2 linked regions of the Homo sapiens genome follow. The protein of the gene in region 1 purifies or fractionates together with the protein of each later gene. This does not show direct contact. Each region holds a gene or a part of one and is shown on either strand. Other genes may lie near its edges.

What was found.
Region 2: the proteins of ZNF383 (region 1) and ZNF644 purify together in Homo sapiens (affinity purification with mass spectrometry; one large-scale study listed by BioGRID and IntAct). This does not show direct contact.

The regions. Positions count from the first base shown.
Region 1 is NC_000019.10:37,245,642-37,249,473, reverse strand, and holds the end of ZNF383 (zinc finger protein 383), read right to left. Parts: 3' UTR 734-3,832; downstream 1-733.
Region 2 is NC_000001.11:90,938,283-90,942,114, forward strand, and holds part of ZNF644 (zinc finger protein 644), read right to left. Parts: intron 3,028-3,832; coding exon 1-3,027.

The sequences.
Region 1 (3,832 bases):
GAGGCCAAGGTAGGGGATTGCTTGAACCCAGGAGTTTGAGACCAGCCTAGGCAACATGGTGAAACCACATCTGTACAAAAAATACAAAAATTAGGTGGGTGCGGTGGCATGTACCTGTAATCCCAGGTACTTGGGACGCCAAAGTGGGAGAATTGTTTGAGCCCAACAGGCGGAGGTTGCAGTTAGCCAAGATCATGCCACTGTACTCCAGCCTGGGTGACACAGCGAGACTCTGTCTCAAACAAAAAGTCAAAAAACAACTGATGCTGGTGAGGCTGCGGAGAAAAGAGAATGCTTATACACTGTTGGTGAGAGCATAAAATAGTCCAGCCAGTGTGAAAAGCAGCCTGGAGATTTCTCAGAGAACTTAAAACAGAGCTACCATTTGACCCAGCAATCCCATTACTGTGTATCTACCCAAAAGAAAAGAAATCATTCTACCAAAAAGACAAATGCACTTGTATGTTGATCGCAGCACTATTCACAATAGCAATGATGGGGAATCAACCCAGGTGCCCATCAATGGTAGACTGGATAAAGAAAACGTGGTACATCAAGCTCATCCAACCCACGCTCCATAGGCTGCATGTGGCCCAGGATGGCTTTGAATGCAGCCCCGCAATCCACCCTCATCCAAAATGCACAGCAATGATTGGATATGTTGGCTATGTTTAAAGACCCTTCAAGTAGGAAGTAAAGGGCATAAATGAATGAACAGTGATACTGCAGCAGATAGGATAATAGTCCAAGTTTATTTATAAAATATATCCCATCCTGTCAAATACTGCTAGAAAAAAGGGTTCATCTAGAAGATGTTGAGGTTAGAGCATATATTTTCATTGACAGAACTTTAGTTATTTGAACTTTTGCAATCCCATGTAAATTATCTTATCTTGTATTCCAAAAATCCCATGCTATCCACATCTATTTGGTTCCTGAGTTCAGACACTAAGAAATACAATCTTATCTAAATCAATTTGATTTTCAAGTTTCAGAAAGTAGAAAGTTTGATTTATCAGAATTGTTTTTTCCTAAATTCAGAATGTGACAAATATTTATTTTCAATGGGTTACTAGATTTGATTTGCTAATTTATAATGCTGTATTTTCATAACTGATTCTGGACAAATTGTTTTGGGTTCTAGTAGGTTGTAACATCAGGATTATGACAAATTTTAAAAATAGATAATTTGCTATCTCAGTCTATGTCCTAGAAGAGTTTCCTAAGACATTTCATAGATTTCACCTATAAAAATCTCTACCTTGGTGTCTTTTTTAGTGTAGCAATTTGACATTTAAAATATATTTTAAGAAAAATTTTATTTCACTTATTTATTTTTGAGAGAGTTTCACTCTTGTTGCCCAGGCTGGAGTGCAATGGCATGATCCCCGCTCACCGCAATCTCTGCCTCCCGGGTTCAAGCCTTTCTCCTGCCTCAGCCTCCTGAGTAGCCGGGATTACAGGCATGAGCCACCACGCCCGGCTAATTTTTTGTATTTTTAGTAGAGACAGGGTTTCTCCATGTTGGTCAGGCTGGTCTCAAATCCCCGACCTCAGGTGATCCACCCGCCTTGGCCTCACAGAATGCTGAGATTACAGGCGTGAGCCACCATGCCTGGCCAGTCTTATTTTTTTAAATAAGTTTATTCTGGAGGGAGGTCTATTAAGATTTTACACCTCCAGTTAATTCTGATGTCGTCAACTTATTAAAAATCACAGACTTTTTCCAGATTTTCAGATATATTATAAAAATGTCTATAATACCAACTTTTAAGTTTGTTGTTTTAATTTTTTTTTTTTTCTGTAGAGATGAGGGGAGGGGGATCTCATTATGTTACCTAGACTGGTCTTGAACTCCTGGCCTCAAGCCATTCTCCTACCTCAGCCTCCCAAAGTGCTGGAATTACAGGCATGAGCCACTGCAACCAGCCTTAAGTTTTTAAATTGAGATCAAATTCACACAGCATAATATTCACCCTTTTAAAGTGTATAGTTGAGTGACCTGTAGTATATAAACAAAATTGTACAACCTTTACCCATGCCACATTTTCATTACCCCAAATGACACAGTTCTTTTAAGTTTACATATATAGCCATTTCAATTTCTCATATACAATATTGTTTATTTGTCATCCTTATTTCACCTCTGGAATCACTAAACTTTGTCTCATTTTTTTTCTCTTCCATCAAATATCAATTTTGGATTCAGATCCAGTTTTTTTCTTTCAATTATTTCTGCCTTTTAAAATAATACTACCTCCTTCCTCCCACAATTCATTTCAGCTTGTTTTAGTTCCTTGGGTTCTATATTTTTTCTTCCTAGTATTACAATATATGCACAAATATTAGGTTATAAAACTTCCAATACAACTTTTACTGCCACTCACAGGTTTTTCAATTGTTTTCATTTTCATGTACATTTAAATAATGTATATATTAGGGATTTATTCCTTAACCCATGTTAATTAAGAGGGAATATTGAATTAATAATCAGATATTTGATGGTTATCCTATTGTACTGCTTCTTCTGGTCAAATAATGTTGCCAGTATGTTTTCTGCATTTTGGGGGGAAATATTAGAAAAAATTTTATAATCTCTTCCTGCTTTTTTGACAGCTGTGCTTTCTACTACTCATCATATTTTCAGGGTTTCAGATTGGTAACCGTTTATTTTTTATTTTGTAAGACAGAGTCTCGCTCTGTCACCCAGTCTGGAGTGTGCAGTGGTGCAATCTCAGCTCACTATAACCTCCAACTCCCAGGTTCAAGCAATCCTCCCACCTCAGCCTCTTGAGTAGCTAGGATTACAGGCATGCAACACCATGCCTGGCTATTTGTTTTTGTTTTTGTTTTTTTTGTATTTTTAGTAGAGACGGGGTTTCACCATGTTGGCCAGGCTGGTCTCGAGCTCCTGACCTCAAGTGATCCACCCACCTTGGCCTCCCAAAGTGCTAGGATTACAGGTGTGAGCCACCGCGCCCAGCCTCAGACTGGTATTCTTTATGTAGCATAAAAGATAAAGTCTGAACAAAGACTATGCACACATACTTTTTCTCTTCCTTTTAAAATTCCACACTGAATAATAATGATAGGGAAAGGCTTCGTTATACTCATTACAAGTGTTTCTCTTTTTCCACCATGAATTACAAATTTGCCAAAGGTAAACAACATGGTTAAAATCCTTTCCATAAATCCTAATGAAGATACTTATGATAATGAGTATATCACTGATAATAGTGGAAAACTTTTACTAAACCTGTATTATGTGATAACAGTTTGAGGTACTTTGCATTTATTAATTCATTGACTCTTCACAGCAATCCAATACATACAGCCTTATTATAGATGCCTAGACATAATTTTTTAAAATACCACTAACAGCCAGGGGCGGTGGCTCACACCTATAATCCCAGCACTTTGGGAAGCCAAGGCAGGAGGATCACGAGGTCAGGAGTTTGAGAGCAGCCTGGCCAATATGGTGAAACCCCATCTCTACTAATAATACAAAAATTAGCTAGGCATGGTGGCGCGCGCCTGTAGTCCCAGCTACTCGGGAGGCTGAGGCGGAAGACTCACTTGAACTCGGGAGGCAGAGGTTGCAGTGAGCCGAGATTGCACCACTGCCCTCCAGCCTGGGCAACAGAGCGAGACTGTGTCTCAAAAAACAAAAACACCACTAATAGCTATAAGAAAAAATAATTGACCGGGCACAGTGGCTCACACCTGTAATCCCCGAACTTTGGGAGGCCGAGGTGGGTGGATCACAAGGTCAAGAGTTCAAGACCAGCCTGGCCAACATAGTGAAACCCTGTCTCTACTAAAAATACAAAAA
Region 2 (3,832 bases), on another chromosome or scaffold:
CGTTTAACAGGTGTTCCTGTGCCAGTTCTTTTGAAATGCTGCATTTTGTCACTTGTGGCTATTTGTTCTGGTGATACAACATGACGGGCTTCATAGCTTAATCCTGCTCTGTGAAGATGCCCCCTGACATGATTTGATAACCCAACACCTGTTTCAAATGTTGCTGGGCAGTAAGGACACGATTTCTTCTCAAGAGACAAATCAGTCCAATGAAAAACAGAACTATGCTTTGACAATGAAGCATCTGCAGTTTCTAAATGCTGAGGATCATGTATCTCATGCAAAAAGTTGTTACTTCCAGTATCTTCATAGTATTCAAAATAAAAGCCATCGTTTTGGTCATAACTAAGAGTAGCATTTTCTCCAGGCTCCTGACCTTCCACTTTGCTCTTAAATAAAGGGAATAAATTTACATGCTCTTGATTAATATCACTATAGGTTTCATCTTCTATGGCCTGTGTAGTGTAGTCTCCTAACTCAACATTATCCCAGGAACTTTCATCTTCTGTTTCATAACTATCTTTCTTTTCAGCAGAATTAAGTTTTTGCAAAACGACAACAGTCATTTTATGCAAAAAATCTGGATAGCTATCCAAGTCTTCCCCTCCAACAGAACTTTCCTTCTTAGATTCCTTAATTACTCTCTTTACAGCTACACGTCTGTGATCTTTGAAGCTTTCAGGCCTTTTGGCGTCAGGCTTATGAGGGTCTGAAATAAAATTGTTGTGAGAATTACTTGATGATGAAAACAGGTGTAAAGAATTTAATGAACTAGCTTCTTCTTTTTTGAAATGCACAGGATATGATTCACCTGATTTTTTGATCATCCTATAGTTTTCATATTTGTGTCTATACAAATAGTGGCTATTTGCCTTGGCATTAGACTTTTCTTTTGCTGCTTGATGGAAATACTTAGGTTTTTGGTCAACGCTGCTTTTAATTGTAACATTCTTATGAGGAGAGCTGTTTTGATTGCACATGTTTACACCTGATTGGGCAATGCTTTTCCGAGCTTTCTGTATTCTGTGTGGCCGCTTATGAATTTTTGAAAAACTACTTGATTGTGAGGTTGATCCAAATGTTCGCTTCACATCTTGTTTTAAAGCAGAGTTCTTTGGAAATGTGGTTGACTGTTGTTTAGTTAATGTTTTAGTGCTATCACTATCTACAGGTTCTTCAAGGATGTCATTTTTTCTTTTATCAAGTCCAAGAGGACTACCAAATGAATCAACACATGATGATGAATGCAAGTACTCCGTGTGCTTTTTTAAAACACTTTTGGCTGAAGTAGTAAAAGGACACATCTTACATATGTAGGTAGCTGATTTTTTGGATGATCCTACTACAGAGTCTTTCATGAAAGTCTTTTTTTGTGTTTTTCTCTGGGCAATATCAGAAGTGACCATAGGGCATTTTACCACTGCCCCATGTGCAATGCCTCGATGGCATTCCAATTCATTTTCTGTCACTGCCATGAAGTTACACTCTTCACAGCAGTAGTACCTTTTATCTTTTTCATGGGTTTTAGCATGTTGCACAAATGTTTTAGGGCAATTGGTACCAAACACACACTGAGGACACTGTAATCGTGCACTTCTTCCTTCATCCTGAAGTTCTTTCAATTCACGAATTTCCTCCATCAACTTCTGTCTTCTCTCCTGGTGAATAATCATATGTTTTAGAAGTGAATTGCGATCTCGAAATGTCCGTCCACATTCTCTACAAGCATATGGCCTTGGGACATTAAGATGGCGAAAGTGACTATTCCCATCTAAATGATACATCATATGCCTGTGGAGGTGCTTCTTCTCCCTAAAATTCACATTGCACTTTGTACAGGGGTAGAATGATGGCTCTTCGGTACTGAAAGTAGCAGGTGACTCAGAATCACTCTCTTCACATTTCTTTTTTAAGGTATTTGAAAGAAAAGTGCTAGTATGAACAGGTGAACTCTCTTCTCCACACTTATCTGGGTTATAAATTAGATGTTGGAAGGCATCCACAGATTCTAAGTCTTCATCAGTTGATTCAGGCTTCACTTTTGATAATGCATATTTCTGTGAGTCTACTGCTTGTAGCTCTTCATTTTGTTCTAGAAAGTCTACTTCTTGCATTTTTGATTTATTGGGTACACAATTAGAATCACTAAAGCAATCCTCGGTATAACGAGTTATCTTGCTTACATCCATTTTTCGCTTTCTTTTTTTTTCTAGACCTATTTTAGAATGAGGTGGAGCTTTATCTACTGTTTCCTCATTAGTCATAAGAAATTGAATGAACTCTTTTTGGGGATCCCAGTTTGTATCATTTTCTGACCTAAATCCATCTGTACCTGAGGAAATTCCCGTTACTGTATTGACACAATCATCTTTCACCAATAAATCTTCACCATCCTCACCCACCTCTACTTGATTTATTAAAGTGCCATCTGACTTTATATTACTCCCTACTGAATTCTGAATGTCACAACCAACTGAAGCAGAGGTAGGTAGTTTTTTATTGGAATGGGTGGGATTCTTAGCATGTGCTACATCTGATAACAAAAATAAAACTTGGTGTTGACTTGCTTTCTGTGGTGTAGACAGCTGAAGATCAGCTGCTACCTTCAAAGTTGAACAAGATTCTGTTGTTGGCTGATCCACAGGCTGTCCAGTGGTTAATGAAACACTGCCTTTATTCATATTGGAAGTCTTAGTTAAGGAGGAGTGTGAAACTGGTCCATTAACAGCAGCTCCTTTAGGCAAGATAAAGTTTTCACTAGAAACAGTAGGAGCACCAGCATGTATAAATAGACTAGACTGGCCTCCACTTAAGGCGTTTTCAGATTTGTCCTTTGACAGTTCTTCAGGCAGAGTCAACGTATTATTTTTCTGAAATGATGTTTGACAATCTTTTGGCTTATGAACTCCGCTCTCTTTGTCTGAGATAAAATTGTTGTCATCTAGGAGTTCTTCTTTAGCACCAGTAATATCGGTGTTTATCTTCAAATCATCCATATTGTTGGCAAGCCCATTTAACACATTTAGTCTAGAAAATGGAAAAAAAAAATTTAGATTTGCATGAAAGAAAAAATACTATTAGAATGTATGGAGAGTTGAAAGTACATATTTTTATTAGTTTAATTTTCTACTCTTTATATTGAGATTCTAATAATTTTCCAAGAATGAAAGAACACAAACATATTGAAATATTTAAAAAGCACCTCAAAGGTTAATATTGTTCTTCATGCTAGGCAACAACAACAGTCCAATACGTCATGTATACAAAATGTCTAGGGAAAAGCAACATACACAAACACACTAGGGAAAAGCAGCATACACACAGATACACATGTATACACAGACTCAAAAACAATATAAATATGCTACAGACTGAAAAAATTTTAAACCTCACGTGGAGATTGCTAATACAAAGAAAATTCTTTCACTTAAGTAGGTTTATCAGAGGTAGTCACTCTATTCTAGAGAACAATATAAATTATCAAATATTGCAGAGAAGTAAAAGATTTGTCACTTATAAGTTCATTCCTGAAGGTAACAAAACACCATTCAGTAAATAACTTTATTGAATGAACATATTTGCTATCAACATCAATGTTTTATGTATGAAATAGTCCTTTTTAAAAGACTGCTTTGCTCTCAAGATGCTTAATGTTCTCCCAACATTCTATCAATTGTAAAAATGCTTTATTCATAGTTTTGTTCATTCCTTATTCAAATTAACCTTAACTATAATTTTAACTTTAGTAAAGTTAACTAAATTTTAGTAAAGCGAATTTTAACTTTACTAAAGTTAAAATTAATGAAGGTTTATGTCAAACTTTCATATGTGG